4 linked regions of the Homo sapiens genome follow. The protein of the gene in region 1 interacts with the protein of each later gene in a biochemical or structural test. Each region holds a gene or a part of one and is shown in the gene's direction. Other genes may lie near its edges. The genes, in order: FBLN2, FN1, ELN and HSPG2.

What was found.
Region 2: the proteins of FBLN2 (region 1) and FN1 form a complex in vitro, tested with the Homo sapiens proteins (one study listed by BioGRID).
Region 3: the proteins of FBLN2 (region 1) and ELN form a complex in vitro, tested with the Homo sapiens proteins (one study listed by BioGRID).
Region 4: the proteins of FBLN2 (region 1) and HSPG2 form a complex in vitro, tested with the Homo sapiens proteins (2 studies listed by BioGRID).

The regions. Positions count from the first base shown.
Region 1 is NC_000003.12:13,551,688-13,559,712, forward strand, and holds part of FBLN2 (fibulin-2 isoform a precursor), read left to right. Parts: intron 1-8,025. UniProt on the Homo sapiens protein: Its binding to fibronectin and some other ligands is calcium dependent. May act as an adapter that mediates the interaction between FBN1 and ELN.
Region 2 is NC_000002.12:215,369,393-215,377,417, reverse strand, and holds part of FN1 (fibronectin isoform 1 precursor), read left to right. Parts: intron 1-743; coding exon 744-920; intron 921-1,699; coding exon 1,700-1,789; intron 1,790-2,024; coding exon 2,025-2,204; intron 2,205-4,006; coding exon 4,007-4,096; intron 4,097-5,042; coding exon 5,043-5,509; intron 5,510-6,985; coding exon 6,986-7,124; intron 7,125-8,025. UniProt on the Homo sapiens protein: Fibronectins bind cell surfaces and various compounds including collagen, fibrin, heparin, DNA, and actin. Fibronectins are involved in cell adhesion, cell motility, opsonization, wound healing, and maintenance of cell shape.
Region 3 is NC_000007.14:74,044,414-74,052,438, forward strand, and holds part of ELN (elastin isoform a precursor), read left to right. Parts: intron 1-808; coding exon 809-880; intron 881-1,774; coding exon 1,775-1,804; intron 1,805-2,282; coding exon 2,283-2,354; intron 2,355-3,261; coding exon 3,262-3,303; intron 3,304-3,728; coding exon 3,729-3,788; intron 3,789-4,089; coding exon 4,090-4,143; intron 4,144-7,336; coding exon 7,337-7,426; intron 7,427-7,510; coding exon 7,511-7,570; intron 7,571-8,025. UniProt on the Homo sapiens protein: Major structural protein of tissues such as aorta and nuchal ligament, which must expand rapidly and recover completely.
Region 4 is NC_000001.11:21,926,608-21,934,632, reverse strand, and holds part of HSPG2 (basement membrane-specific heparan sulfate proteoglycan core protein isoform b precursor), read left to right. Parts: intron 1-8,025. UniProt on the Homo sapiens protein: Integral component of basement membranes. Component of the glomerular basement membrane (GBM), responsible for the fixed negative electrostatic membrane charge, and which provides a barrier which is both size- and charge-selective.

The DNA.
Region 1 (8,025 bases):
CTGATGGTAAGTGAAACTGGGTTCTCTGCAGCAAATTCGGGCCTAAGGTGAAGATTGCACAGCCACTTGACCTCCATCTCTTGACCTCGTGATCCGCCCGCCTCAGTCTCCCAAAGTGCTGGGATTACAGGTGTGAGCCACCGTGCCCGGCCCCTCCTTTTTTTTTTTTTTTTTAAAGACAGGATCTCGTCCTGTCTCTCAGGCTGGAGTGCAGTGGTGTGATCACAGCTCACTGCAGCCTCAAACTCCTGGGCTCAAGTGATCCTCCAGCCTCAGCCTCCCAAGTAGTTGGGACTACAGACGCACACCAGCCAGCTAATTTTCTATTTTTTGTAGAGATGAGGTCTCACTTTGTTACTCAGGCTGATCTTGAACTCTTGGCCTCAAGTGATCCTCACTCACAGCAGGTGCAGGTGATTGGGTGTGATGAGGAGCTGCTGGTGGATTCTGGTTTGGGGAGGGGTGGGGTCTAATTGAGATCCTAAAGGTCCCTTCCCCCACACTGCTGCTGGCAGGGAACAGGCTGGAGGGCAGCTGTGGGGATCCATGCAGCTTCCAGGTGAGAGAAGTTGGGGCTTGGATTAGGGCAGTGGCAGCATTGGAGGTGAGAGTGGTCAGATTTGGACTGACTTTGCAGGTGGGGCTGCCAGGATTTCTTGATGGATTGGAAGTGGAGTGAGTGAAAGGGGAGGCCAGGGTGAGGCCGGCTGTCCTGCCCGGTGGTGGACGTAAACACCATGCATGGCTTCTGGTCCTTAGCAGCCCTCTGTCATCCAGTTTCCTTCCCCAGGTCCCCGAGTGTGGGTGGTGCAGGTGTCCGTGTGGCTGCAGGCAGCTCTGCCTCCAGGGCGCCTTCTGAATGCTGGGGCTGCAGAGGTCTACCCTCCCAATAGACCAGACAGAGGCGCTGCTCCTGTATGCTACAGGGGCAGAGGGGACCACAGGGCTGTACCTCCAGCCAGGCATTATAGGGTGGTGGGAGCAGTGGGTTTGTGGCTTCACCTCGGGAGGGCTGGGAGCTGTGACTGGGTGTTGTGTGGGGGCGGCCAGGGAGGGGCTCCCTGGAGTTGGCGTTCCTGCTTTAGCAGCTCTATGAAACCCTTTGCCAGGGAGTGTGCCCAGGGCCTTGGATTCTCTTCATCACCCCACAGTGCTGGCAGTAGCCTCTGGTGTGGGCCAATGCTGTGCCAGGGGCTGGTGTACAGAGGAGCGGAACACAGGGCCCCTTTTAAGGTCATCCCCAGGGGTGCCTGCATGGGTTGCTCTGAAATGCTTTGTCGGGGCCATCCTGGAGGAGAACGCTGAAGCCATGGGAACTGAGGAGGCATCTAGCTGAGCCTGGGTGGTCAGGGAGGGCTTCCTGGAGGTGGCGCAGGCACTGTGATATGAAGGTACAGGGGTGAGGGGCACCTGGGGACAGAAGAAAGCCTGGCTTCTTTCAGAGTGGGGGCTTGGAGGAAGAGTGGGAAGTAAGGCTGGCAAGGCCAACTAGACCCTGAAAACGGAGGCCCTCCAGTCCTGGTCTGCGAGCGAGCAACAGGCAGCCTCAGGGCGTTCCGAGCAGAGGAGGCGCGGCCAGACTGTGAGGTTGAAGGGTCCCTCTGCAGCCCAGGTGTAGGAGTGGGCCTGGAGAGGACAAGGCGGCAGGTGGGAGACCTGTGAGAGTGACAGGGCCGGGAAACTGAGGCGCAGAGTGGGGCGTGCTTGCCTGCAGTCACATAGCGACTGAGGAGGAAGAGCTGGGACGGGAGCCAGCTCCGTCCACCTCCAGGTCCTGCCTGGCGAGCTGCCCTCGTGTACGGGGCACCACTGCACGCCCACACCACAAACTCGCCTCAGCTGGGCACGTCCTTTCCCAGGGCCCCTCGTGGGTCAAGCCGTGCGTCATTTTGTGCCATTGTCTTCAGTTATTGGAATTTGGAAACGTTGCAGAAATGCCTCTCTCTCCCCTCATATATGGAGATTGTTGCAAAGCAAGTGCTGGTTTGGGGAAAGGTTATTTCCTTCCTCGAGGGTGGGGAGCCTGGCTTTCCTGAGAGGGGCTGTATTGTAGGCGGCCAGTGCGTCCCGCCCAGGTCTGTGTGCTGGTGAGGAAGTGGTGCCACCCACCTGTGCCGGGCCAGGGATGTGGAGGGGAGCACCCATGTGCTCAGGCAGACCCTGCCAGTCCCAGGTCTCACACCTTGTCGGGCTTCTGGTTGCTCATCTGTGAATCGGGGGCGCCCCCCTGGCTATGCTGACATTGTTGCCCAGGAAGAGCCTTGAAACAGGAGGAGGGCTCTGAAGTGTGATGAGGCCCAGCTGGGCGCGTGGGGAGCACCGTGGGAGTTGAGCATTGCCTGGGCCTGAGCCCCCGGAGCCTGCATCATGAGGGATTTGTCTCCTATCCTTAGCTTCTCAATCTGGAAAATGGGCCTGGTGGTAGGGGCCCCCAGTAGGGTTGGTGTGAAGGCTGAAGGATGAATGGAGAGCCCCAGGCCCACTCTGGGGAGGCGGACAGTGCTGCTGGCCGTAGCTGGTTCTTGAGTGTGGCTGAGTGCAGCCACCTGTGTCTCCCGTGGCTTCTGTCTTCTGGCCACGGAGACACCATCATCTGTGTTGGGGCCAGCCCTTGGGCTTGTGATCGGGGTACCCCAGTGCTTGATAAGCCTCCCAGAGTTCTTCCCTCCTTAGCCTGGGACCCCCATCCTGGCCCTGAATTCCCAGCCCCAACCTTGGTCCCAAGTTGAGCTTTTAGATGATCCAGAAAGTTCTGTTCTTCTTAGAGTCTCCTCAAAATGAAAACACATCGTCAAAAAACATTGATGAGCATGCATGCGCGTGCCCACACACACGTTCTCTCTTTCTCTCTGTCTCTTGTCTGTCTCTGAAGATCTCGCTCATCACTGTGTTTTCTTAGACAACTTCCCTAGTCCTCGTGGTGGTTGGTGTTGGCTGAGCATCTCAATGTCCTCCCTCATCTCTGCTCCCCTGCATGGCTGTGGAAACAAATTAATTTCACCGTTTTGGCCCATGGGCATCCCAGGGGCCCTGATGGCTGTTGTCTGATTATGGGGCTGGTAGAGGCAGAGGGCTTCTACGGGGACCTGTGCACTTTCTTGGGGAATAAGCCAGAGGGTGTCAGCTTCCTTTCTGACAGAGTGAGGATGAGTTTCACCACCGTGTTTTCGGCTGCATCCTCCTACCTCCTGTCCTTGACATCATACTTAATAACTTAATGTTATTTTAAAAAATCCCTTCCCTGTTTTGCTTATATTTACTTTTTTTTTTTTTTTTTTTTTTAAATACTGAATTTTACTCTGTCACCCAGGCTGGAGTGCAGTGGTGCGATTCCGGCTCACTGCAACCTCTGCCTCCCAGGTTCCAGTGATTTTCCTGCCTCAGCCTCCCGAGTAGCTGGGACTACAGGTGCGTGCCACCACACTGGGTTAATTTTGTATTTTTAGTAGAGATGGGGTTTCACCATGTTGGCCAGGCTGGTCTCAAACTCCTGACCTCAGGTGATCCACCTGTCTTGGCCTCCCAAAGTGCTGGGATTACAGGCGTGAGCCACTGTGCTTGGCTGCTTATACTTACTTTTAAAGGAAACCTTTGATCACAACTGTAGACAGAAATCAGGATCACTTGTCCTAAACCAGCAATACCCATAAAAATAAATATGGCACTAAAAATACAGTGCTTAGCATCTTAGCCACCTTGTATGCCCTGCCACAGCCTTGAGCCCGAGTGAGTGTTCCCTGTTTTTTTTTTATTTATTTTTATTTTTATTCATTTATTTATTTTTTGAGATGGAGTCTCGCTATGTTGCCCAGGCTGAAGTGCAGTGGCGCCATCTCGGCTCACTGCAAGCTCCGCCTCCCAGGTTCATACCATTCTCCTGCCTCAGCCTCCCGAGTAGCTGGGACTACAGGCGCCCGCCACCATGCCTGGCTAATTTTTTGTATTTTTAGTAGAGACGGAGTTTCACCGTGTTAGCCAGGATGGTCTCGATCTCCTGACCTTGTGATCCACCCGCCTTGGCCTCTCAAAGTGCTGGGATTACAGGCGTGAGCCACTGTGCCCAGCACCCTGGTTTTTAAAAAGAATGGTTGGCAAGCGTCTGAGAGGTGTGGGAGGCACACCCGTGCTGTCTAGAGACGGTCTCCAATAGCCAGATTGGTTCAGAGGGATTCGCGGGGACATTTCCTCACAAGATCACCGAGCGTTGGTGCTTGTCCCTGAAATCAGCTGTCCTTGGAACAGTCATCTCTATCCCTGCCCAGGAAGTCCCCTGTGGTAGGGGCGTCACATACCTCACATCTCCTGGGGCTGCCTTGGCATGTTTCGTGCTAGGCTGGGGTTGATGGAGGAGGCCCCAGCCCTCTAGCAGGAATGTCTTCTCTGAGACCAAGTGTCTGGCTCTCAGGGAGTGGCCATGTCCTCTGTGCCCCCAGCTCCGTGCCCTAAGACTGTCCTGGCGGGTTCCGGCTGCTATAACAAATGTCACAGATGAGTCGGGGAGGAGATTGAAGATGGACATTTATTTCTCAGTTGTGGAGGCTGGAAGTCTAAGCCCTAGATTTCGTTCCTGGTGAGAGTTTTCTTCCCGGCATGCACGTGGCTGCCTTCTTGCTGTGTCCTCACAAGGTGGGGGGTGGGAAGCGGCGGACGGAGAGAGAGAGAGAAGGGAAGAGAGGGAGGGAGGGAGGGAGAGCTAGTGAGCTCTGGTCTTTCTTTCTGTAAGGACACTAATCCACACATGGGGGCTCCACCCATGTAACCTCATCTAAACCTCCTAATGGGGGGCCCCACCCCCTGATACCATCCCACTGGGGTCAGGGCTTTCACATAGAAATGTAGGGAGGACACAGATGTTCAGCCTGTAACAGACTGGTTTAATGAACTGCTGAGGATGGAAACACTGTAACACCAGCTGCCAGTCCCTGTGTGACCCCAAGGCAGGGTGTGGTGGGGAGGCCATGGCTTCCTGTGCATGGGATGGGAGGAGTGACCCCTCTTTGGCCCTAGACGTTGGGGTTCCCAGGGTCTGGTTGGGCATCAGCACATGACACTGTAGCCCACCTATGACCTGGGCTTGGTCCCCCACAGTGACTTCGGAAGTTGGCCTGCCCATTGCTGGAAGCAGGGGCCCCTTTGCACAGGCTTGTCTGTGTCTGAGGCTATTCAGGAGACGTAGGGGCCCCACTACATCCTCCTGGAAGGACTAGTGATCTGTCAGCCCTGGGTCAAGTTGCAGCCACCAGGACTCCCTCACGCCCCATCTTTCTTTTGTCTCTGCCTTTCTCTGTGAGCCTGGTTGATTCTCTCGAAATGAGGCCCGCCACATGGCAGGAAATGTGCCCACCTTCAGAACTTGCTGTTTCTTCCTCTGCAGGTGGTCTGTGCTTTCTTTTATTTCCACTTCAAGAGCTCAGGGAGGAGCTGTGACCAGCCCAGCCTGGGAAGAACATCTGCCCTGGGCCAGTCAGCTGTGGCTGGGGAGGGTCAGGAGGTCATGCGTTGATGTGGCCCCAGGCGCATGTCTGGAGCCATTCCCTGAGCCTGGGGACTGAGCGAGGCAGCCTGCTGCCCTAGGAGGGGTCTAGTCTACTGCAGGGACACATAACCCCAGCAACTCAGACATTTTGGGGTTAAGTCAGCCATGAATACAAGAAGGTGGTTCTTCTTTCTTTGTTTTCACAAATGTCAGGATAATTTTGGTTACAGGTGATAGAAAGTACAATTTCAGCAAAAAAGTCATGGAACTAAAAAAATACAGGGTGTAGCTTCAGGCATGGCTGTATCCAGGGCCTCTGCAGATGCCATCAGGACCGGGTCTCCATCTCTTGCTCTGCTGTTCTCTGTGTTCCATACTCCCAGGCAGGCTCTGCCGTGTGGTGGTCAGGTGCCCCAGCAGCTCCAGGCTCACCCTCGAGCTCAGAAGCTCTGGAGCAAGGCAGCCTCCTCCCAGGAGCATCAGCATGGGCCATGTGACTGGGTCGTGTGACTGCTCTGACCTGTCACTGTGGATGGGGCAGGGACTCCTCTCATTGGCCATCCAGCAGTCCACGTAGCCTGAAGTGTGAAGGGGGGTTCCCCAGAGGAGAAAGGCTGCAGTGATTAGACCCACTGTGCAGATGAAAGCATTGCTGCTCAGAGGGTCACATGCTCCGAGGTGCCCAGCAGCCTAGTGGCAGGGCTAGGTTCAAATTTGAGCTCTGATCTCTGGGAGTCCAGAGCTTGGTCCTGCTGGCTGTCTCCCTTGGCTTTGGCAGCAGGGGCTGACTGCCTTGGGGGCCTCCAAGGCTCTTGAGCCCAACGGTTATACCACAGACTGGGCCAGACCCCGCTGTTGGTTGTACACTGGCCGCCTCACTGGCAGCCCTGAGAAATTCCTAAATTTCAGGGCCGTGCAAATAAATTGGGCACAGCAAAGGCCTGAGGGACTCGCAGAGAGACTGGGCTGCCCGCTCCCCTGGCTGCTGCCTCCTTCCAGATGCTGTGGTGGCCAAGGGAGCCTGGTTCTGCCGTAGGCCGGCCCCGCCTGCCTGTCTCCATCGCTGTCTGTCTCTGGCTGTCTGCTTGGCTTTCGGTCTGTGCTTCTCTCCATCTCTGTCTTGGTCTCTTTCTGTCTCACTAATGGATCTCTTTCCTTGTCTCTGTCAGTCTCTGTGTCTCTCTCTGCCTGTCTTTTGCTGGCACCACTCCCCCCACCCCGCCACCCAAGTCTAGGATCTCAGCCCTTTGTGAGACTAAAAGGCGGACGCAGGAGTGAAAGTGCCTCTGTATGAAAGGTGGACACGTACCTTGGTTGTTTAGGTCACTTAGCCAGTGACTAGCCAGGTGACTTCAGGGAAGCCTTTTCTGTTTCTGAAGGCCCTTCTGGGATACTCACATTCATAATTCATCCCATCCTCTCTGCCAGCCCTGTGCTCGGGCCATACGGATTAATTAATCTACCCCTCTCCACTCACCCACCCATCCATATACCCACACACCCATCCATCCACCCGCCCACCCACCCATCTGTTCACTTACCCACCCATCCACCCACCTACCTACTTTTTTAGCCACCCATCCATTCACTCGTCCATCCATCCATCCATCCATCCACCCATCCACCCACCCACCCACCCACCCACCCACCTACCTACCCATTCATCCATCTACCTACTTATCCCACCCTCAGGGCTTGGCTTTAAAGCATGGGGTGGGATTTGGGTGTTCAGGGTTCTAGGAGAGTTTCAGGAGAGAGGGCATCGCAGGTTGAGCTAATGATGAGAGAAAGATAAGGGGTTGGGAACTAGAGAGAGTTTTCCAGTTTAGCAGGAGTTGGGTTTGTGGAGGACAACAGAGGGGGATGGGTTAGGAAAGCTAGGTGGGGTTAGTTGGTGAAGGGCTTTGAATGTCTCCGTTAGGAGTTTTTTCTTTATCCTTGGGCCACAGGACTTCAGCCAGGGGTCTGTGAGTGGACTGCAGGGAGTCTATGAAACTCCCTCACATAGCAGTTTTAGGTATGTGCCCATATGTCTGTTAAGGCTCTTGGTTGCAAGGGACAGAAAACCTGGTCCAAGTTAGGTTAATCAAAAGGGGTTCATGTCATTGTGAAGTTCAGTTTTTCAGTTAGCTTCAGGCATGGCTGGATCCAGGTGCCAGGCAGCTATCACTATGACCCTGTTTCTCTTTCTTGGCTTTTGTGTATTTTATGAGCAGGTGCCAGCCTCTGATGGTCTCCACTTGATGACAAGATGGCTTCAGGTACCCTTGATGTTAAATCATCTTAGTCTAATACAGTAGGAAAGAGAGAAGCTGTTTGCCCAGTGTTTTACCTGAGGTGGGTCTTATAGTCTCTAATTGTCCTGGTGTCCATCTCTGAGTCAGGTGCTGTTGCAAGGGGAATGGGAAGTGCTGATTGGAGCTCCAGCAGGGTGATAGGGCCACAGAACGAAATCTAGGGGCTGTTCTTGGAAAGAGGCTGAATATGTGCCAGGTGGTCAGAAACCACCCAGTGTCGCTGCAGAGCTTGGTTCATTATGTGCTTTTTTT
Region 2 (8,025 bases), on another chromosome or scaffold:
TCATAAAGAGGGCACCAAGCCACAAGGGATCTGCCCCCATGATCCAAACACCTCTCACCAGGCCCCACCTCCAGCATTGGAGATTACAACTCAACAGAGATTTGGACAGGGACAAATATCCAAATTATATCACAGCACAGTAACCATTGGACCAAATCAGGCTTAGATTCTAGTCTTCTGTTATATCAATACCTTGATGTATGCCTTTTCAAAAGTCAGGTAAAGTGTCAAAGTTTTATCATTTATAAAAGAGGGATGGCATTGTACCTGTTGAGAGAAAATACAAAATACTTGCCGTAATATTAGACACACACACACACACACACACACACACACTCTCTCTCTCTCTCACACACACATACACACACACACACACAAAATTGTTAGCTGGCCATGTTATTGTAACTCCTACCACACATATTTTTACATTATAATACATTAATAATTTTAATATTTATTGAAGTATTTGTAGATACTATAAAGCCAGCCCTGGGAACCACTGGTAGTATCTATAAAGCTTTTCAGCTCTTCAAAATAAAATGTCTGAGAGGTAGATATTTTCCTATTTTCTAATTACAGTTGACCTTTCTCTCTGAATGCCAAAGGAGATAATCTACACATTACTAGTTATATATTTCTTGAAATGGATGAATTTGATATATACCAAGGAAACGTTTTAAAATACCAAAACTTTACATGGATGAGCCAAGCAGGCACTAATCTCTAGCTATGCTCCTGTGCAGATGTCAGCCCACCAAGAAGGGCTCGTGTGACAGATGCTACTGAGACCACCATCACCATTAGCTGGAGAACCAAGACTGAGACGATCACTGGCTTCCAAGTTGATGCCGTTCCAGCCAATGGCCAGACTCCAATCCAGAGAACCATCAAGCCAGATGTCAGAAGCTACACCATCACAGGTCAGGGAACTCATTGCACTAACCACATTTGTTAACAAATACCCACAATGTAAACGGGCTTATTAACTGTTCTACGACTGACACTGATAAAATTTATTTTCAGTGTTATCATCATAACCCAGTTTTAGAACGTTATTTTCATGCTATGATCAGAAATAGTTTTGTCCTTTGAATGCCTGATTTTGTGTAATATTTGTCATGGAAATTGCGTAAGTGTCAATCAACAAGTTTGATCTTCCATCATTGTGCCCTTTCTTATTTAAAAAATTGTAACATAAGGTTTAAAACTAAAAGAAATAAAAAACAGTGATGTATAGATCTTAGCATTAAAAAGCATAGTTAATATAAAAGTAAACAATACCACTTAATAAAGGCCAAAATTGTAACCGAAGAATATTCAATATCTGAGGTCTTTTTTAGCTTTTTAAAATTGTGATTCCAAGGCTCAACTATTGACCATCTGATTACGGTAAAGAGAAAACCTCAATAAGTGGCTGACCCCCATTCTGCAAGAGGGCCTCTTCCAACATAGCATTTTTGCATTCCAGAATTTACTTTACCAGTGTCCTTGTCTGTATCAGTGATTCACTTTCGAGATATGTTTCTTGTTAACAGTTAACATCCATAGCATGCTCTACTTTACTGTTCAAATGTGGACCACTTTGGTAGTCTATATAAATATGGGATGATAGAAGAACCCAGAAAAATTGCAGGCTAGCTTGAGAATTCTCCTAGTAAAAAGCAAGAACTGTTAAAAATCATCTCTTCTCAAATCCCAGGTTTACAACCAGGCACTGACTACAAGATCTACCTGTACACCTTGAATGACAATGCTCGGAGCTCCCCTGTGGTCATCGACGCCTCCACTGGTAACTATACCTTCTACTGAGGAAATGCCATTGACTTGTATGCAATCAGTTTCATGAACTCAAAAAACAAATGTGAGGCGTATATTTTTGTATTATAGATTCCAGAGAATCTTGTTTCCGGTTTACAGTATTCTCAGATTCTTTTAAGTGTGTTTAGAACGGCTCGGGAGAAAAGTGTGGGAGTAATTTTCTTGGTTATTTGCCTTCTTAGAGACTTAATTTTGTTTTCTTTCAGCCATTGATGCACCATCCAACCTGCGTTTCCTGGCCACCACACCCAATTCCTTGCTGGTATCATGGCAGCCGCCACGTGCCAGGATTACCGGCTACATCATCAAGTATGAGAAGCCTGGGTCTCCTCCCAGAGAAGTGGTCCCTCGGCCCCGCCCTGGTGTCACAGAGGCTACTATTACTGGTATTGCTGCTTCCATGCTGTCATTTTCCTTCTTACTACCTAGGACACATGAAGTCCTTAGCAAACTCCCACAGCGTCTTTGATACTGTGTCATGAGAATGCGAAACTCTGTTCCTGATAACCTCAAAAAGCATTCTCTGTGTAGGAGTGGTAGAGCCTAATACATCCCAAAAGGCATGAGTGAAGGAAAATGCAATTTCAAGACTGTACTAATGGCATGACTAGACTCATGTTTTCCTTTCGCTGCAAGTTTGCCAGATACCTGTCAATTCAGTCCTGGAGAAAGATATTTTTCAAAGCATACTAGCTGATTGTGATTCTGTCATTACACTCAGCTCTCTATAGATATGGCAATCTTGCAGGACTTGCCAGTGCACCACCTGCCATTGACCTTGTTGACCACTATCACAGGATAGGTCTTGAGGCAGAGCAGTCCCAACCACCCACATTGGAAGAATGCCTGGAATGGGGAATAAGAGTTGTCTACCTTGGTGGGAAAGACTATAAGCCTCTAGTATTATTTTTGCCCAAGAGATGAAATATTTAAACTATCTGTATTAGTCTGTTTTCATACTGCTATAAAGAGGTTTAATTGACTCACAGTTCCGCATGGCTGGGGAGGCCTCAGAAAATGTACAATCATGGTGGAAGGAAAAGCAGGCATGTCTTACATGGCAGCAGGAGAGAGAAGCACACAGGAGGAACTTCCAGATACTTACAAAACTATCAGATCTTGTGAGAACTCACTATCATGAGAACAGCCTGGGGGAACCACCCCATGATCCAATCACCTCCTCTCCTCAATACATGGGGATTACAATTCCAGATGAGATTTGGATGCAGACACAGAGCCAAACCATATCAGTCTGTATAGAGTATCACCTGGACTTTAAAATTCCCACAGAACATACAGACATTAGAAGGAGACACTGGCTTTTTAGAATTGGGGGGAACAGGAAAATAGAAGCAGACATGAGAGGAATTGAACTAGACACTTCCCACAGAGGCTGCACAAACACTGGCCAATCTCTCCTACCCTTCACTTGCCTTTAGTTTCACTTTTCATTGATCTGCCACTGAGGACTGCTTGGTTATTAGGCCTAAGTAGATTCATGTATATAATCTGCAGGACTCTCTTTCAAATTTATATTCCAGTGGTGGTATATGATGCTGATAGATTTTCTTAAATTCAAAAAGGCAAATAAGACCACGTTAAAAGAATACCCTGGAAAGGCCAGGCGCGGTGGCTCACGCCTGTAATCCCAGCACTTTGGGAGGCCGAGGCAGGCAGATCACAAGGTCAGGAGATCGAGACCATCCTGGCTAACACGGTGAAACCCCATCTCTACTAAAAATACAAAAACAAAATTAGCCAGGCGTGGTGATGGGTGCCTGTAGTCCCAGCTACTCGGGTGGCTGAGGCAGGAGAATGGCTGAACCTGGGAAGCGGAGCTTGCAGTGAGCCGAGATAGCACCACTGCACTCCAGCCTGGGTGACAGAGCCAGACTCCATCTCAAAAAAAAAAAAAAAAAAAAAAAAAAGAATACCCTGGAAAAGTTAGCCAAAAAATGTCTATTCAGGCGTCAGATATGATAGTAAGATAATTAGTTTGCGATGCGGACTTTATATGCAGGATATTTGGGTGTTTATGGAGGAAAAGTGAAGTCGATTTTACCTTCAAGAGGCCAACAGCCAGCTGGAGAGGAAGTGCCTGCTCCCAGTAGCGTCTGCTGGTGAGACCGACTTCCACTTGACTAGCTGAGCCCATTGACATAATGTGATGGTTCTATTCTCCCTTCAGGCCTGGAACCGGGAACCGAATATACAATTTATGTCATTGCCCTGAAGAATAATCAGAAGAGCGAGCCCCTGATTGGAAGGAAAAAGACAGGTAAGAGTATCTTGCAGGTAACAAGGAGAAAGATAGGACAAAACTAATAACAAATGAGCAATCTTGCAATATGAAAAGGTTCTCCATGTTTTGATGCATTTCTTGTGATTTTTTTTATCTAACAGCATAGTGTATATATTGTATTCTTTAATAGGAGAAATAATTTAACATGCACTGCAGAGTTTGGTTTTATTTTTTTTCTTTACTACAGCCACTCAATATAAAGCCTTGTTATTCACCTTTTAAAAATTCAAACAAGATGTTAAAATGTAAAAGAAGAGCTATCATTGCTCTTCTTTTATACCTTCTGTTGAATTTTAAAATGTTTCCTTTTTTAAAGGAGGGAGAGAAACCTCTCACATTTATCTTTATTTGGTTTCTACAACTTAGAGCTAAATAATGTCTTACTTTTGCATCCAGTTTCAGTTAATTTCAAGAAAATGTGTATTCCTGATATAGGAAAATTTCAAAAATGAACATGTGTGTTTTATCTATTTTTACCATTTCAAACCATGAAAAACTGTTGAGCCAAACCTCTGTAATTCTCATACTTATGACACTGATATGATTAGTCTGGATTCTACTTCCTACAACTTGCTTCTCAAATTTAAAAAAGAAAGAGAGAAAGAGAAAGACTGCACATTTCAGTTCCATTAGGTCTAATTTGAGCAGAGGCAGCTTCTACGGGGCTCAGCGGTTTAAAGCTGTGTGTATGATAAATTCATACTAACACTTTTTTCTTTCTAAACTATAAAGAAACCTTTGAGAAAAATCCTAAAGATTTCTTTCTGGAAAAAGTGTTTTGTGATCTCAGAACTGCTCATTTTCTGGTGGCTTTTATCAAATTGATGAACAGTCATTGTTGCCTGAATCGATTATTATCATTGCTGCTACTTCCTGGAGCTTAATGCGCTTTGCTTTTTTGGCTCTAACCTCTCTCGGCTAGACGAGCTTCCCCAACTGGTAACCCTTCCACACCCCAATCTTCATGGACCAGAGATCTTGGATGTTCCTTCCACAGTTCAAAAGACCCCTTTCGTCACCCACCCTGGGTATGACACTGGAAATGGTATTCAGCTTCCTGGCACTTCTGGTCAGCAACCCAGTGTTGGGCAACAAATGATCTTTGAGGAACATGGTTTTAGGCGGACCACACCGCCCACAACGGCCACCCCCATAAGGCATAGGCCAAGACCATACCCGCCGAATGTAGGTGAGGAAATCCAAATTGGTCACATCCCCAGGGAAGATGTAGACTATCACCTGTACCCACACGGTCCGGGACTCAATCCAAATGCCTCTACAGGACAAGAAGCTCTCTCTCAGACAACCATCTCATGGGCCCCATTCCAGGACACTTCTGAGTACATCATTTCATGTCATCCTGTTGGCACTGATGAAGAACCCTTACAGGTAATTAATTGTTCTCTTCACTTCTCATGGGGCAGCACAGAAAGGAATAAGTTAGGTAACTGAAGTGACCAGCCCTCGAATAAAAAGTGGCTTCATGGCCGGGTGTGATGGCTCACGCCTGTAATCCCAGCACTTTGGGAGGCCGAGGCAGGTGGATCATTTGAGGTTAGGAGTTCAAGACCAGCCTGGCCAACATGGTGAAACCTCGTCTCTTGAAAAAAAAAAAAAAAAAAAAGTGGCTCCACTTTTAGAACCTCTTAGAAGATGGCACATTTAAGCCCTGCTTTTTTTTTTTTTTAAATCCCAATATGGCTCTACTTTGGAGGACATACCAGAGAGTCACTAGCTTTTATTTCATAGAGAAAATGAAACTATTTCTCTTATTCTCACACATTTGAGGTTCCTTTTTGAGTAAGATAGATGATTCTAGAAAAGAAAGATATTCTACCTGAATTTCCATTTGTGTGCAGAAGTCTAAAACACTACCTTTACGATTTGTCCTTGAAGAACCCCACTATCTACAACATATCTAAAGAAAAAAAAAAACAGGCGAAGCTGTGCATAGCAGCTGATAAGTGATTGATTCTCTAAAACGTATATTATTTAATTTGTGTTGACAGTATCCATTTTTTTTTTTCCCCGAGATGGAGTCTTGCTCTATGGCCCTGGCTGGAGTGCAGTGGCGTGATCTCGGCTCACTGCAACCTCTGCCTCCCAGGTTCAAGCAATTCTCCTGCCTCAGCCTCCCAAATAGCTGGGATTACAGGCATGTGCCACCGCACCCAGCTAATTTTTGTATTTTTAGTAGAGACGGGGTTTCACGATGTTGGCCAGGATGGTCTCGATCTCCTGACCTCGTGATCCGCCCGCCTTGGCCTCCCAAAGTGCTGGGACTACAAGCATGAGCCACCCACTACACCCGGCCCACTGACAGTATCAATTTTTATTGTGTTGTTACTTTTAGAAAGTGGCAGAATTTAAAAACTGACAACACTGTAGGAAATTTATGAGCTTAGAAACATGAGTTTGAGGATTTGCCCAACTGTTTTAAGGACTCCACACTGGGGTCAGATGTCACCTGGAGGAGCATGACCGTGTCTCCCATATAGCGCAGTGTCCAGGTTTTATGTGAAGCAAACATGGCCAGGGCTTCCAGAGGGCTTATGCAGACCTGCGACTGAAGCAAGATCAATGGCAGGCCGTCTCTAGTATTGTCGAGGGCTCCTGTTAACTACGGAGCACGTAGGTAGATTGTTGGCAGGAAAATCTGGCAGGAACGATGGCCCCTATCCTTGTTCCATTTCTCTCCTCAGCTGGTTAGGACCACTATACCCTCCCTCTTTTTTTTTTTTTTGTTTTTTGTTTTTTGTCTTCCTTTGCTTTGTTTAAACAGTGAGGGTTATTGGTAAGAGGAGAGCCCGTGTCATTCCTCACTATAATGCTTTCTCTCTGCTTTGGATGTACCGATAATTGCAGTTCAGGGTTCCTGGAACTTCTACCAGTGCCACTCTGACAGGCCTCACCAGAGGTGCCACCTACAACGTCATAGTGGAGGCACTGAAAGACCAGCAGAGGCATAAGGTTCGGGAAGAGGTTGTTACCGTGGGCAACTCTGGTATGTAAACACGTACTATTTAGACACAGGCTCCCCTCTGCTGTACACCAGAGATGGGCTTTTCTGTTGACTGTACCTTTGTTGCCATTGTCTTTTTATCTTTGGGATTTAATGCAACACATCAACATGAAATAAATGAGCAACTTTATATTAAATTAATCTCTCCCCCACCTCCTGCCATATCCTGTTGTCTTCACAAAATGCATACGTAATTGACAGACTCTCAAATGGTGATATGATTATAGATCTGGAAGGGATTTCAAATATTATTTAGTACAACACTCTGAGTCCTTACTTCTGAGTATCTGAGTTGATATAGGGCACAGGTTTCCTGATGTCTTTTCCCAGACCCTCTCCATCTCACCATGCTGCTGTCCTCTTGAGTGATTAAATACTGAAACGATTACCTATAAAGAAAATACCCCTTCTGCAGACATGGGGACAGTTGGCTTTTGCTCCTGATATAAAATGCTACCAACATTGTGCATTTCTGTCTGCAGAGAATGTTATTCCAATGTTATTTCCATTTTTTTCCAATGTTATTTCCATTTTTTTTTCTGACTATACAGGTTAAAAGCTTCTATAGAGGTTAAAAGATCATTAACTCTTCTTTGTAGCACCTGGGAAATCCTTTTAAATCAATAGCGTGCCACCTGGCTGCTCAATTTGCAGCAGCTGAAAATTCACCAAGGCACATGAGATAGGGGATAATCAAAACCGTGAATCCCCAATCTTCCAACAGGAGAGTTCTCTACTCCACACCAACAGAGAGTGCTAAGTCCTGTCTATGCCAAGTGACAGATTTTATTCCTAAGGCCAGTTGTTTAATTTTAGCCCCTTCCCTCATCTGATAGAAGACTGTGCTACTTTACATGTATAAATTCCTGTGAATTAAGCAGTT
Region 3 (8,025 bases), on another chromosome or scaffold:
CCCCTGAAGGTCAACCAGCCTTCCTGCACCCCACCCAAGCCCTGATCCCAGGCACAGACCATCATCACAGCCCGAGGCGGGCCCCCGAGGACAGATCCCAGTGTGACCAGCTATTTCCCAAAAGCTGTGAGTCACCAAGGGGCCACCCAATGAGTCTGCCCTGCAGGAGACCCTAAAGAGCTGCCCCTCACCCTCCTTTCCCCTGCCAGGGCCTGACCACCCCACCCAACATGTGACCTCCTGAATTCCCCCAAAAGCCCAGATTTAGGCTGTTATGTGGGATTTGCTGATGGAGTGGCCCTTCCTCCCTCTCTCCCCCACTACGCTGAAAGCCAAGGCTGCCCAGCCCCAGGGGAGACAGGAGAGGTGGAAGACGCTGGCATGGTCCCAGCTGTAGCTGGATGGCTGCTTTGGGGGTCTGGGTTGTGAGCGAGAGCCCCAGAGAGCATGGGCCTCCCTGGTCTACGGGCGAGTGGCACCGCGCAGCAGCTGTCCCTCTCTTTACCTTTTCTGCGGAGGGTGGTCGAGACGGCTTTTGTGATTAACTCCAGCATAGAGATGAGGCTGACTGAGGCACCAGCTCACATGGCTGGGAAATAGGATTAAAACTCAGATCTTCTGACCTTGAGCCAGACAGGGAAGGAAAGTCAGCACTAAACAGGTCCTTTCTCCACCCACCCCGTGAGCCGTGCCTGTCACTGACAGTCAGTCCCAAGGGAGGTCAGCTGGGGGACCCGAGGAGGGGAGGGGTTCCCAGCAGGGCCTGCAAGGCCTGCCTTCCTACACTCACTGCTTTGTCCCCCGGCAGGAGCTCGGTTCCCCGGTGTGGGGGTGCTCCCTGGAGTTCCCACTGGAGCAGGAGTTAAGCCCAAGGCTCCAGGTATGCAGCTGTCTGGACAGAGGGCTGATGGCAGGGACTCTCCAACCACCTTCTGGCCCCGGGTGTGAAATGGGGTGGGATCCTGGACTGGCTCAGGGCCCTCTGGGTGACACTTTTTATGTTCCAGCCCTGGGCAGCCTGGTGCTGAAAAACCTCAGAGTGTGGCTGGGCACACTGGCTCACACCTGTAATCCCAGTATTTTGGGAGGGTGAGCTGGGAGGATCGCTTGAGCCCAGGAGTTAAAGACCAGCCTGGGCAACATAGCAAGACCTTATCTCTACAAAAACATGATTAAAAAATTAGCCGGACATGGTCACACACACCTATGATCCCAACTATTCAGGAGGCTAAGACAGGAGGATCTCTTGAGCCCAGGAGATCAAGGTTGTCGTGAGCTATGATCACACCACTGCACTCCAGCCTGGGCAACAGAGACCCCGTTCCCCCGCAAAATAAGAAAGAAAGAAAAGAGGGCCAGATGCAGTGGCTCATGCCTGTAATCCCAGCACTTTGGGAGGCCGAGGTGGGCGGATCACCTGAGGTCAGCCTGACCAACACGGTGAAGCCCTGTCTCTACTAATAATACAAAAATTAGCTGGGCGTGGTGGCCTGCACCTGTAATCCCAGCTACTTGGGAGGCTGAGGCGGGAGAATCGCCAGAACCTGGGAGGCAGAGGTTGCGGTGAGTTGAGATCACCCCATTCCACCCCAGCCTGGGCGACAAGAGCGAAACTCCATCTCCGAAAAAAGAAACCCCAGAGTTCATGTGAGCGCAGCATGCGATGACTGGTCTGGGAAGAACTGGCCATTCCTTGGGCCTCCTGGCCCCTTGGTGCTGTCTGGCCCAGTGTCCACAGTTCCAGGGCTGTAGTGACAGCTTTTTATCATTACAGGTGTAGGTGGAGCTTTTGCTGGAATCCCAGGTGAGGCAAGGCTGGTGGGAGAAGCAGGGTGGCCAGCCAGGCAGAGGCTCTGGCGTTGGGAGGGGTTGGGCACCCAAGATCCCATCCAAGCCTGCCCAATTTCTCCCACGCCTGCAGAGCCAGGTCTTGCAGTGGCTGTAGCACAAAGTGGCACCCATCCCAGGCCTGCTCCCCCCACTGGCATAGCAGCCCAAAATTCAAAGGAGTCCAGAAAACCCTCCAGCCTGTGCCAAGGGCTGCAGGCCCAAACTGGGGCCCAGGCCCCAGGAGGGAGAGAATCCCGTAGCTTCCTGGAGGAAGTGGCCTGTCACTGGGAATTTCTCAACTGACCCATGATGGAGATTCAGGGAGTCCCTCGAAGCAGGATGGTTTCTGGATGCTGTAGCAAGCTCCTTCTGTCTGAGCAGAAAGTGGAGTGGGTGGCGGAGGGTTTGGAAGGGGGTGCTGGGACCTGAACTTGCTCTCTTTATTCCCACAGGAGTTGGACCCTTTGGGGGACCGCAACCTGGAGTCCCACTGGGGTATCCCATCAAGGCCCCCAAGCTGCCTGGTAAGTCAGAGGGACGGTTCAAGATGCACCACTCGGCCGGGTGTGGTGGTTCACACCTGTAATCCCAGCACTTTGGGAGGCTAAGGCGGGCAGATCACTTGAGGTCAGGAGTTCAAGACTAGCCTGGCCAACATGGCAAAACCCCGTCCCTACTAAAGATACAAAAATTAGCCAGGTGTGGTGGCATAGGCCTATAATCCCAGCTACTGGGGAGGCTGAGGCAGGAGAATCTCTTGAACCCAGAAGGCAGAGGTTGCAGTGAACTGAGATCGCGCTACTGCACTCCAGCCTGGGTAACAGAGTGAGACTCTCCTCCAAAAAAAGAAAAAGAAGAAAAAAAAAATGTACCACTCACTGCACCTCCCTGCACAGAAGTCAGCCTGGGTACAGGTGTCTCTGGTGGCAGGGAAGGGGTGTTGAAGCCCCTGTATGGTCACCAGCCAAGGAGAGCATGGGAAAGTCATCTGCAGGTATTGAACTCACACACACACGCTCATGCACAGAGACCCATAGTCCCGATCTGAAGCTATTAGGCTGGTGGAAAGGAACACGGTTCATTGGAAAGATCCCTCTAACATCCACCCACTCGTGCTCCCGCCCCTACCTCTGCAATCAGCTTAGACAATAAGATGCTTTCCACTGAGGAGGGGGTGTAAGGAAAATACTCAGACTCCAGGGCCATGATGGGGCTTGAATTTGTAGGGGGATGGGTGTTCCATGGGCCTCGGGGGCAGAGGTGTCCTCTCCCTCCTTCACCCAGCGCCTTTGCTCTCCTGGGAGCAGCTCAGGACCCTGATGTGGGAGGTCTCAAGCTTTAGCACCTGTGGGGGTAGATCTGTCCACCCAGGTTGGTGGGAGCCCAGCAAGGCATGGGGCAGCCCCTGAGTTTGCTCTGTCCTCTCTCCAGGTGGCTATGGACTGCCCTACACCACAGGGAAACTGCCCTATGGTGAGTGAGACCCTTCTAGACTGTGGGCTTCCAGCTCTTTCCCTCTCCAGGGTCCTAGCAAGGGTGCTGTGCTTCCAGCCCTGGGCCAGGAGAGCACCTCGCTGGGGCAGGGTTGGGGTCTTGGAGTGGGAATCTCAGAAGGAAAGGGCATGGAATTTGGACTCAGCATGGGTCTCCATCCCTGCCCTCCCACCTATCAATAATGAGACCTTAAGTGAGCTGTGTTGCTTCTTTGAGCCTCTGTGTTCTCATCTGTAAAATGGACATAACAACTCCATACATGTGTTTGTATTTGTTTTCACTCTGGCTGGGGGTGACAGGTGCAGACTCAGGACAGCTTGGGCCCCGAGGGCAGAGCAGGGGGAGGGGGAGGGCAGCAGTGGTGATGTCTGCACAGATGACCATCAAGCCTCTCTGTTTTGCAGGCTATGGGCCCGGAGGAGTGGCTGGTGCAGCGGGCAAGGCTGGTTACCCAACAGGGACAGGTAAGGAAAGCCTCACGTCACTTCCAGCCAAGGGAGCACTGATCTTCCAGGCTCCAGAGCCCTGGGGTGGGTGAGGTTCCCTCCTGAAAGCAGCAGCCCACCCTGCATCCAGACCCTGGTCCAAACCTGGAGCAGGATCCTGGGGGAGGAGTGGGGCAGCTCCATCAGCCTCTGCCTACTCTGAAGCTCCCATGTATACCCACATGTCAGTGGATTGGCTCTCTTGGGGCTGGGAACAAGTGGGCTCTGGAGATACAGGAGCACTGTTTCAAGGTCTCTCCCCTCTGCTTCCTTCCCCCAGGGGTTGGCCCCCAGGCAGCAGCAGCAGCGGCAGCTAAAGCAGCAGCAAAGTTCGGTGAGTGCCCCTGGAGTCCCCACCTGGTGGCCTCCAGGCCCCTAGCCTCTCCATTCCCATTACTATTGACAGCCTGCCTCCAAAGTGGCCCCTACATACCCCCATTTACTCAAAATTTTCAACATCACCCATCTATCTATCCCTCCCTCCAACCATTCTTCCATGCATCCATGTATCCATTCATCCTTCCATCAATCTATTACTTTCTCCATCCCTCCCTCCATCCATTCCCATTCCTCCATGCATCCATCTATCCATCCATCCATTCATGTACTCATCTGCCCATCCATGCATCCATCCACTCATCCGTCCATTCATTCATCCATCCATCTCTCCCTCCATCCATTCATCCATCCATCCATCCATTCCTCCATGCATCCATCTATCCATCCATCCACTTATCTATCCATTCATCTACTTATTTACACATCCATGCATCCATCCATCCATCCACTCATCCATCCACTCATTCATCCATCCATCTCTCCCTCCATCCATTCATCCATCCATCTATCCATCCATCCATCCATCCATCCATCCATCCATTTCTCCATGGATCCATCTATCCATCCATCTGTCCACACATCCATCCATCCATTTATCCATCCACCCACTCATCCATCTATCCATTCATCCACCCATCCATCACTACCTCCCTCCATTCATCCATCCTCCATTCCTCCATGCAGCCATCTATCCATCCATCCATCCACTTATCCACCCATTCATCCATCCATCAATCCCTCCCTCCATCCATTCTTCCATCCATCAATCCCTCCCTCCATCCATTCTTCCATCCATCCATCCACGCATCCATCCATTCCTCCATGCATCCATCCATCTATGCACCCATCCATCCATCCCCTCATCCATCCATCCATTTATCCATCCATCACTCCCTCGCTCCATTCATCCATCCACCATCTATCCATCTATTCCCCCATATACCCATTCATCCATCCAACCATTCCTCCATGCATCCATCTATCCCTCCATCCATTCCTCTAGGCACCCATCCATCCATTTCTCCATGCATGCATCCATCCTTCCATCCATCCTTCCATCCATCCATCCACCATCTATTCCTCCATGCATCCATTCATCCATCCATCCATTCCTCCATGCATTCATCCTTCCATCCATCCATCCACCCATCAATTCTTCCCTCCATCCATTCTTCCCTCTATCCATCCACTCATCCATCCATTCTTCCCTCTATCCGTCCACTCATCCATCCATTCCTCCATGCATCCATTCCTCCATGCATCCATCTATCCATCCATCCATTCATCCATCCACTCATCCATCCATCCATTTACCCATCCATCCACTCAATCCATCCATCCATCCATCCATACATCAATCCATACATCAATCCACCCATCCATCACTCCCTCCATCGATTCTTCCATCCATCCATCTGCCCATTCTTCCATGCATCCCTCCATCCATTCCTCCATGCACCCACCCATCCATTTCTCCATGCATGCATCCATCCTTCCATCCATTCATCCATCCATCCATCCATCCATCTATTCCTCCATGCATCCATCCACCCATCCATCCATTTCTCCATGCATCCTTCCATCCATCCATCCATCCATCCATCCATCCATCCACTCACCCATCTATCCATCCATCCATCCATCTACCCATCAATTCTTCCTTCCATCCATTCTTCCCTCTATCCATCCACTCATTCATCCATTCTTCCCTCTATCCATCCACTCATCCATCCATTCCTCCATGCATCCATTCCTCCATGCATCCATCTATCCATCCATCCATTCATCCATCCACTCATCCATCCATCCATTTACCCATCCATCCACTCGTCCATCCATCCATCCATCCATCCATCCATCAATCCATCTATCCATCACTCCCTCCATTGATTCTTCCATCCATCCATCCATCCATCTGCCCATTCTTCCGTGCATCCCTCCATCCATTCCTCCATGCACCCATCCATCCATTTCTCCATGCATGCATCCATCCATCCATCCATTCCTCCATGCATCCATGCACCCATCCATCCATTCACCCATGCATTCATTCATTCATTCATTCATTCATTCATTCATTCTTTCCTCCATGCATTCATCCATGCCTCCTTCCTTCCCTCCCTCACTGCCTCCTCCCACCCATCCATATCAGAGATCAGGGACAAACAAGAGTTCTCTTAGAGAATATAGCCACTGTTGTGGGAGTCAAGAAACGGGAGGCATTTTTTTCTACCTGAGGAAAGTTAGAAAGGCTTCCCAGAGAAAGTGACATGTGATTTAGGCCTTAAAAATAAAGATGGAGCTTACCATGTGGTTAAAACAGGAAAGAGGAGGCCAAGCAGAGGGAATGGGTACCACGGTGGTTAGAAAGATAATTTTAGGTGGTGCATATATAAGCATTTAAAATATTTAATAGTTATGTATCAATTTAATGTGTACTATAAAAATGTTAACTCACTGCTCAGGTCAGTGAGTTCTTGGCTAGCATGGCTGCAGATGGAACGTGGTATTCCTGTGCCCGTGCAGTGGGTGGAGTGGGCATCTGTCCCCTGCCCCAGGTAGTGCCCACCTCAGGGTCAGACCACTAGGGCTGAAGTCCTCCTTCATCCTCAGCCCCAGGGAAGCCCTTTCCTTATCTCCCCACCAGCCCGAGAGAGCGAGAATGTGGGGAGAAGCCTGAAGCTGGGCCTCCCAGTGGAGGCCCCGCAGGCCCCCCTCCCAGCACCCGAGGCTCCTTGGCCCCAGCGGCTGGTGGGGACGGCTGCAATGTGGGAGCGGGAGAGCAGGGCTGTGAGGGGCTGCCAGAGCCAAGCAGCCAGGCGCTTGGATTACAAACTTGGCTGCATCTTCGGAACACAGGGAGAGGAAGTCTTGAACATTCCTGCAGGGGACCCTCTGGCCCAGGGAGCGGCCACTTGTGGTTTCTCAGTATGTGGCAGTGATTAGAATGGGATTTGTCTGAAAACATACAAGTCCCTTAATGAGTGTGTTGAAATGGACACTTTGGGGGAGAGTCAAGGAACAGTGGAGTGGGGTGGGGGCCTCCCCAGACAGGCCCATCTGGAGACACCCGGGCCCCATTCCTGGATAAGATCACACTGGTGAAAACGCCGGCGTCTAAGTGGCCATCCTGCCTGTCCTCAGGAGGGTCCTTGGGAAACTACATTGCACTGTCCCCATCTCAACAGGTGCTGGAGCAGCCGGAGTCCTCCCTGGTGTTGGAGGGGCTGGTGTTCCTGGCGTGCCTGGGGCAATTCCTGGAATTGGAGGCATCGCAGGTAACATCTGTCCCAGCAGGGGGCGGGTGTGTCCTTGAGATGGCCACAGGGCAAGGACCTCACCCTCTGTGGCTGTGTTTTCAGGCGTTGGGACTCCAGCTGCAGCTGCAGCTGCAGCAGCAGCCGCTAAGGCAGCCAAGTATGGTGAGTGCCTCCCGGGGTGGCAAGTCCACGGCTCGGGCCCCTGCATAGACCTCGGAGACCCTAGCCGCAAAGCCAGATGGACTTGGCCTTTGTTCCTTCCCAAATATGCATTGTTCATGCCTCCTTACCTTTGCCCCTTCTGATCACTCTACCTGAGATGCCATCTCTATTGTTTTGCCCTGATTAACTCAGCAGAGGGAGGGGACCCTGCAGAGGGGACATGGCTCCTCCCACTCCATCCCCTCCAGGGCCAGCCCACAGGTGTCTGCTGCATCAACTAAATGGGTGCCCAGTGGTGAGAATTCTGACTGTGCTTTAGGAATAGATCACATTCTAGCTATGCACAGTGGCTCACGCCTGTAATCCCAACAATTTGGGAGGCTAAAACCAGGAGTTTGAGACCAGCCTGAGCAACATACTGAGACCCCATCTTTCCAAAAAGTATTTAAAAATTA
Region 4 (8,025 bases), on another chromosome or scaffold:
CAGAGCAAGACTCTGTCTCAAAAAAAAAAAAAGAGGGCATCACACTTTGTTGCCCAGGCTGGTCTCAAACTCCTGGCCTCAAGCGATCCTCTCGCCTCGGTCTCCTAAAGTGTTGGGATGACAGGCATAAGCCATCATGCCTGGCCTGTCTCTGAAGTCTTACAGACCCAAGTATGAGTCTCTGGGCTGCGGTTTCTGGCTGTGTGATCTGGGGCGAGTTCCTCTCTCTGAGCCTTAGTTTCCAAATCTGTACAATGGGGTTGAGGAGTTTGTTGCAAGTCAAAAATGAGATCAATTCCTAGCCCAGGCTCCCAGCACACCTTGGACCCTCTTTGCCTGCTACCCTTGCTCTCATCTGCCCTTCAGTTTGGTCCGGAGCCAGTGGCTTATGGGGAAGGGTTGGGCACAGCAGCAGGGTGAGATGGGCCTTAGGGAGCTCCAGGCTTCCCCGGGACGGGGGACAGGACCACAGGAAGCTGATCTGTGATTAAGTGTGGGTGTAATTTCAGCTGTTGGGAGGTGAGGAGGCTTGCTGGAGGAGGGGGCTGGGCCTGGGTGACTCGGCAGGCCTTGGCCTGCTGACCCCTTTAGGGCGGCCCTGCAGGGGACAGGCGTCTTGAGGGAGCCTCGGTGGTGATTAAGGTGTTTTCCAGGGCCTAGGAGGGAAGTCGCTGAGATACCTGTTTCCTGCCTCAGCTGGATTTCCTCACTGGGGAGGCTGCCAGCTGAACTGCAGGAGCCTCCCCTTCCTGGCGGTCCCTCAGCCCTCCTCCACGCAGCCAGCTGCTCTGTCACCTGACACTAGCCTACTTGTTCCGTACCTGCAGCCGGCACAGGATGGGGTTTTGAGTGTGCCCTGGACATTCCCGGAGGGAAGGAGGGCAGGCTGCAGGTCTGTCTGCAGGGTAGAAGCTGGAAGGGGCAGAGATGGACCACCCCCCCATCCCTTAGGCCCATTTCCCCCTGTCTGGGGAGTTGTGGCCCCTGCCTGGCTTGGCCCGGGCCTGCTCTCAGGCTGAGCGCAGACAAGTTAGGATCTGTGGGTCTGAAGCCCTGCCCGGGAGACGGTGGAAAGAAGGTGGCAGGAGGTGACTGGGTTCAGGGCCCGGAAGACGGGTGAGCAAAGTGGAGGGGAAGGAGCTCTTGGGGTGCCAGGCTGGATGATGACACAGTAATACGGGTACTTCAGACTTACCCAGTACCCACTGTCTGCTCTGAGTTTCTCAGTGAATCCTCCCATTCACCTGTGTTTCCTGCTCACCACCTCCCTGCGGTGCTCAGAATTAGGTCCCAGCCCCTGACTTAATATAGCCTACGAGGCCCTGCAACACCCGGCCTCCTGCCACCTGCTCCTCTCAAACTCCTCCAGCTATACCAGTCTTTGTTTCTTTTTCTTTTCTTTTTTTTTTTTTTGAGACAGGGTCTCACACTGTCACCCAGGCTGGAGTGCAGTGGCACAATCACAGCTCACCGCTGCCTCAACCTCCCACGCTCAGGTGATCCTCCCACCTCAGCCCCCTGAGTAGCTGGGACTACAGACACCCTCCTCTACACCTGGCTAATTTTTGTATTTTTTATAGAGACAGGGTTTTGCCATGTTCCCCCAGGCAGGTCTCGAACTCCTGGGCTCAAATGATCCACCCCCTTCGGCCTCCCAAAGTGCTAGGATTATAGGCGTGAGCCACTGCACCCAGCCTTTTCTTTTCTAATGAATATAAAAATTTAAAACAAATAGAGATGGGATCTTGTTGTATTGCCCAGGCTGGTCCCAAACTCTTTAACTCAAGCTATCCTCCCACCTCAGCCTTCTGAAGTGCTAGGATTATAGGCATGGGCCACCTCGCCTGACCAAGGCTTTGTTTCTTGAGCATGTGAAACACACTCCCACCTTAGGGTCTCTGCGTCTGCTGTTCCTTCTGCCTGGGACATTTGTCCCCGTAATATCCATATGACCCTCTCCCTCTTTCTGGTCCTTACCACTCTTCCCATAATGGCTGTCTCCTTAAACTGCTTTATTTTTGTTCTCACAATTGTCTGGCCTGTATTTGTCTGTATTTGTTTATGTGTTTATCTGCTTCCTCCTGCTCAGTTTAAGTTCTACGAGAGCAGGACCTCATTTGTTTTTGTTCACTGCTGTATGCTTAGCACCTGGCAGGTAGTAAGTGCTTAGTGAATATCTTTGTCGAATGTTTTAAGCTGTAGCTACTAGCCTGATCCCCATTCTCTAAGCAGAGGACATTGAGGCACTGAGAGGTTACGTAACTTGCCCAGTGACTTACATATCCACACACTCAGAGATGCTGCAAGCCAAGTTTTGAATCCAGACGAAGCTCTCCTAATCACGCCACGTACTGCCCCATGTGCTTGTCGTGGGCAGTCAGTAGATATTGCTACAACTTGTCACAGATGTTGATTAAGAACTCTGGTCCCAAGTAGTACAGGGGCTACCTCAGGCAAGGAATATCAGGGATTGGCTCGGGGACAGAAGCTCTTAGGTTGGGTATGCCTCAGTGTCCGTGGGGTCTCCTAGGGACGCCTGTGCCTGGAGGGGAAGCCTAGGAACTCTAGGGTGGTCATTTTTAGGTTTGTTAATTCATTAATGTTCTCATCAGATATTTCCTGGGACTCTACAGGCAGTTGAATTTATCCAGGGACTTTTAGGCCTGAGTGGGCCAGGCTGGCCCTGCCCAGTGTGGGAGGTCAGGGGCCCCTGCCCCTGCCATGCTGCTAGTGGGGGAAGGGGAAGAACACCCTCCTGGTTGTCCTGTGTGGAGCCTGCGCTGTTTTTTTCTGGCTGTTCCCTGGGGGCTCAAGGTTTAGGGTGAGTCTGCAGAGCTTCAAGGGCTGCCTGGCCTTGGGGTGAGAGGCTCAGGAGGGAGGGCAGGAGGGCCTGCCCAGGCTATGGAAAGATCTGGAGCAATGATTCAGAGGCCACTTGGAGGCCAGAGGTGTGGGCTCTGCACCCTCAGACTACTTGGGGTATATGGGAAGGGTTCCCAGCCCTGGCCTGTTGCCCCCCTCCCCTTCACCCAATCCAGTCCCAGCTATGAGGGGTCAGACTGGAGGAGGAAGTGAATATGACTTGGTTCCCCGGCAGCTTCCCAAGTATCTGCTGGGCCTACCTCTCCCTGTCCCAGGGCCTACCCTGGCCTTTTTCTCCTCTCGCTCCTGCTCCTGCCAAGAAGAGGGAGGCTGCGCCGAGGGTCCCGGCCCTGCTGGAATGTTGCTTCCGCCTGGGCCTTGGCCTCTTTGGCCCTGCCACCCCCTCCTGCTCCCGGGGCCAGCTGCCCCAGCACCCAGAGCTGGCTGACTGAAACCCAGAAGTATGTGTGGAACTCACTTCGCGGGGAGCCGCCGGCCTCACTGCCCAGCCTGGTGGCGTCAGGGCTGTGTCAATAGCAGCCTTGAGAGGGGTGTGGCTCGTGGCTGCTGGGGTGGCCGGGTCGGGGGTGCTGTCATGAAAGCCCTGAGAACAAGGTGGCTCTTTGAGGCCTGGGAATGTGAGGCCTTTGAGTCTTGCTGCCCCCAGAACCACTCTCCCTTCCCTTCCATGATGCTCATCTGTGCCAGGCCTGCAGGAACCTCAGAGCATCCCTGGAGGCATCTGTGGCATCCTGAGATAGCCTTAGGACCAGCTCCTAGCTCCTGACCAGGGCCCATTCCCTGAGCCATGAAGGAGGGTGTCCTGTTGCTCTGGGTTTTAGGGGAGTATCTGGTGCGCAAAGCCTTGCAGAGTGTGTTGAATGAATGAATGAACAAATGATGTATGTGATTAAGCGTTTTTTAAAATTCATTTCACAAATATCTGTGGAGCATCTTCTATGTATCTGACTGTGTTCTAGATCTTTTTTTTTTTTTTGAGATGGAGTCTTGATCTGTTACCCAGGCTAGAGTGCAGTGGTATGATCTCGCCGCACTGCAATCTCTGCCCCCCAGGTTCAAGAGATTCTCCTGCCTTAGCCTCCCAAGTAGCTGGGATTACAGGAACACGCCACCACGTCCAGCTAATTTTTGTATTTTTAGTAGAGATGGAGTTCCACCATGTTGGCCAGGTTGGTCTTGAACTCCTGACCTCAAGTGATCCACCCATCTTGGCCTCCCAAAGCACTGGGATTACAGGCGTGAGCCACTGCACCCGCCCTGTTCTAGATCTTGAGGTTACCGCAGAGAATAAAAATGTCAGATTCCTTCCTCTCATGTCACTTGCGTTATAGCTAGTGCAGGAAGACAGACAATAAATGAAATACATCAGGTGGTGATAAGTGCTCAGAAGAAAAAATAAAACAGGGAAGAGGGCAGTGAGTGATGAGGCGGGGTAGGTAGGGTGGGGTGGTAGGAAAAGCCTCTGATAAGATAAATTTGAACTGAAGGAGACCTGAAGTAAGTGAGCGGGTGAGCCTCGCAGATATCAATGGAAAGGGCATTCCAGGCAGAGGGCACAGCTAGTGCAGAGGCCCAGAGGTGGGAGTGTCCTTGGCATGTCTGTGGAAAAGCAAGGAGGCCCGTGGGGCTGGAGCAGCATCAGTGAGGGGGAGCATGGTGGATGCAGCAGGCAGGGGGGTGGCAGAGGGTGATCAGCAGAGCTTTGGCCATGGGAAGGACCTTGGATTTGCGTCTGAGTGAATTGAGAAGTCACTGAAGGGGCCCGGTGTTCCATAGGATTGCTTTGGCTGCTGTGTGGAGAGGAGCACGGGGAGGGTCCAGAGCAAAGGCAAGGAGGCCGTGACCCAGGACAGACGATGGGAGCTCAAGCTAGGACCACGGAGGTGGGAGATGGTTGAATCCCCAGTACATTTTGAAGATGGGTCACCAGGATTTGCTAGTGGGTTGGATGTGGGGCGGGACAGAAAGAGAAGAGTCCGGGATGCCTCCACAGTCTTTGGCTTCAGCATCCCGAAGGATGGAGCTGCCACTACCTGAGATGGGAAAGTTCCAGGAGGAGTGGGCAGGAGGTGGAGTCCAGAATTCTCAGAACAGTTAATTTATTTGTGTCTTCTCTTACGATCTCTTGTTTGGACAATAAAAATTCCTAAAAAAAAAAAAAAAAAAACCGGCAGGTGGGCCAGGAGTGGTGGCTCACACCTGTAATCCCCACACTTTGGGAGACCAAGGTAGGAGGATCACTTGAGCCCAGGAGGTGGAGGTTGCAGTGAACCATGATCTTGCCACTGCGCTCCAGCCTGGGTGATAGAACGCGATCCTGTCTCTTAAAAAAAAAAAAGAAAAAAGAATGGCAAGTGATGGAGGGGACAGCATGGGTGGGGGTTGGACTGGCTCACATGCCTGGCAGTCATCCCCCTACCCATCTCCAGCCAGGAGCTCCCCCGTCCCCACCCAAGCTGGGGCCTCTGCATTGGCTTATGGTGTAGGCGGAGGGGATCTTGCTGAGTGTTCATTTGTGGAGTTGCAGACTCTGCCTTAGAACTCCACAGCCGGAGCTCATGGCTTGTAGATTTATTCTTACCCCCTCATCTAGAGTGGAAGCTGCATGAGGGCAGGGACTTGGCTTTGTTCATTGCTGTTTGCCTGGTGCTAGGCAGATAGTAGGTGAACACATTAAAACTTCAAGTGAGGCTGGGCACAGTGGCTCACAACCTGTAATCCCAGCACTTTGGGAGGCCAAGGCGGGCGGATCACCTGAGGTTGGGAGTTCGAGACCAGCCTGACCACCATGGAGAAACCTCGTCTCTACTGAAAATAATAATAATAAAAAAATCAGCTAAGCATGGTGGCACATGCCTGTAATCCCAGCTACTCAGGGAGGCTGAGGCAGGAGAATCACTTGAACCCGGGAGGCGGAGGTTGTGGTGAGCTGAGATCGCGCCATTGCACTCCAGCCTGAGCAACAAGAACAAAACTCCATCTCAAAAAAAAAAAATCAAGTGAATAAAGGATGGGCGCGGTGGCTCACGCCTGTAATCCCAGCACTTTGGGAGGCTGAGGTGAGCAGATACTTGAGGTCAGGAGTTCGAGACCAGCCTGGCCAAGATGGTGAAACCCCGTCTCTACTAAAAATACAAAAAAGTTAGCCGGGTGTGGTGGTGCATGACTGTAGTCTCAGCTACTCAGGAGGCTGAGGTAGGAGAATCGCTTGAACCTGGGAAGCGGAGGTTGCAGTGAGCTGAGATCATGCCATTGCACTCAAGCCTGGGCGTCATTGCGAGACTCTGTCTCAAAACTACAAACAAACAAACAAATTCAAGTGAGCAAATTAATGGCTTTGAGGAAGCCAGCAGGCCAAGAAGGCCCAGGCTCCTTGCTGAGATTGGAAAGGGGCGTGCTCTGGCCCCTGCACTTGGGAGCTGCCTGCCCAGCCATGCTCTCTGCAGGGCCCCAGAAGATGTGGGACAAGCTGGGATGTCCACTCTGCCCTTTTTGACTTGTCTGTGTCCTCATTGGTCTCAGAGCCACTTCCCTGGGCACTGTGGTCAAGGGAAAGATGTGGGCTCAAAAGGCCCTGCCTTCAAGTCTTGGCCCAGCCCTGACTGGCTCTGTGACCTTGGGCAAGTTGCTTTACCTCTCTGAGCCTCAGTCAAATGTGAAATGGGGAGGCCTGCTTCCTGGTGGTTATGAAGTAACCAGGTGGATGCACCTTGCTCAGTGCCTGGAATGTGGCAGGTATTTGACAATCCGTGATTGCACTAAGTCTCGTTCCTGCTAAAGACAAGGCCGGTGGAATATCTGAGGCAGGGTTCCCAGGGCACAGCCGGGCACGCCTTCTCTATGACCCAGGTCCTGTACTGGGCTTGTTGAATGAATGGCTGTGTAAGGGGATTGTCCATTCCCTGGGCCTCTTTCGCAGTCTCAGAGCTCCGGGTGTAACTGCCTCTGATCTGTCACTGCCCCTCCTTCGCCTACCGAGGCCGCAGCTGTAGGACAGAGTCCATCCTTCCACCCTGATTGCTCCTTCCTGGACTGGGAGAAGGAGGGGGGCACACCCCAGGGTGTGGCCTGGGAAAGGCTGGAGTCTTTGGACGCCTTGTCCCCTTCCCAGATGTGTGCAGTTGGTGGGCTCTGAGCAACAGGAGGTGTGGCCAGGGGCTCCCATGGGTGCAGAAAGGATGTTCGTGCATCCTGAGGGTAGTGACAGTGGGGGGGGTGGGGGATGTCCTGGGACCCCATCCTAGCCCTGTCCCCCCCTGGCCTACACTGGAGGAGGCAGGACCTTGCCTGGGGAGCTCTGGGCCAACCTGCAGTTGGTCCTTACTTGGTGGGATGTGGGGCTGCTCGACTCTAAATCTGGCTCCCGTGGCCTCAGAGAAACAGCAGGACTCAGGAGAGAGAGACACACAGGCCTGGGGATCTCACCCCACCCCACCCTATGCTTTGGGCTTGGGCTGTTGGGTAGAGATGTGTCCCCCCTCCCCATCAGGCGGGTCACACCTAGGTGTTTTGTAACATTTGGCCTCTTTCCCCATCTTTCTCCCATCCCAGTCGGTGGGGAAGGGGAGGCCTGGCTGGGGCCTGAGCCTGGGGAGGACTTCAGAGGTGGCCTCGGGTCACTCCACAGATGCTTCTCCACGGGTGGGGCTGGGATTCCCAGCTGCCTCTGGCCCCTTCCCAGCCCACCTCCGGGTCCCTGCCACCACCTCCCCACTCCCTGCGCCTGCCCATGGCTCTCTCCCAGGAAGCCGGCTCCGGCCCCCACCTCCTGGTCCTGGCCTCCCCCTCCTAACTAACCCCAGCTGACTCAACCCTCTCCTTGTTTGGCGTTTCCAATTTTCAAATAGTTGGGAACTGGGATCATGCCTCTTCTTGGATCCCTTACTGGGCTGGATGGATTGAAATTCTGGCCTGATAAATCCCAGCCCTAGTGGCCTCTACTCTATCATTTTCTTTCTCTCTTTTTTTTTTTTTTTTTTTTTTTTTTTGAGACTGAGTCTCACTCTGTCTCCCAGCCTGAAGTGTAGTGGTGCGATCTCGGCTCACTGCAACCTCTGCCTCTCGGATTCAATAGCGATTCTTTTGCCTCAGCCTCCCTGGTAGCAGGGATTATGGATTACAGGCATGCACTACCACGCCTGG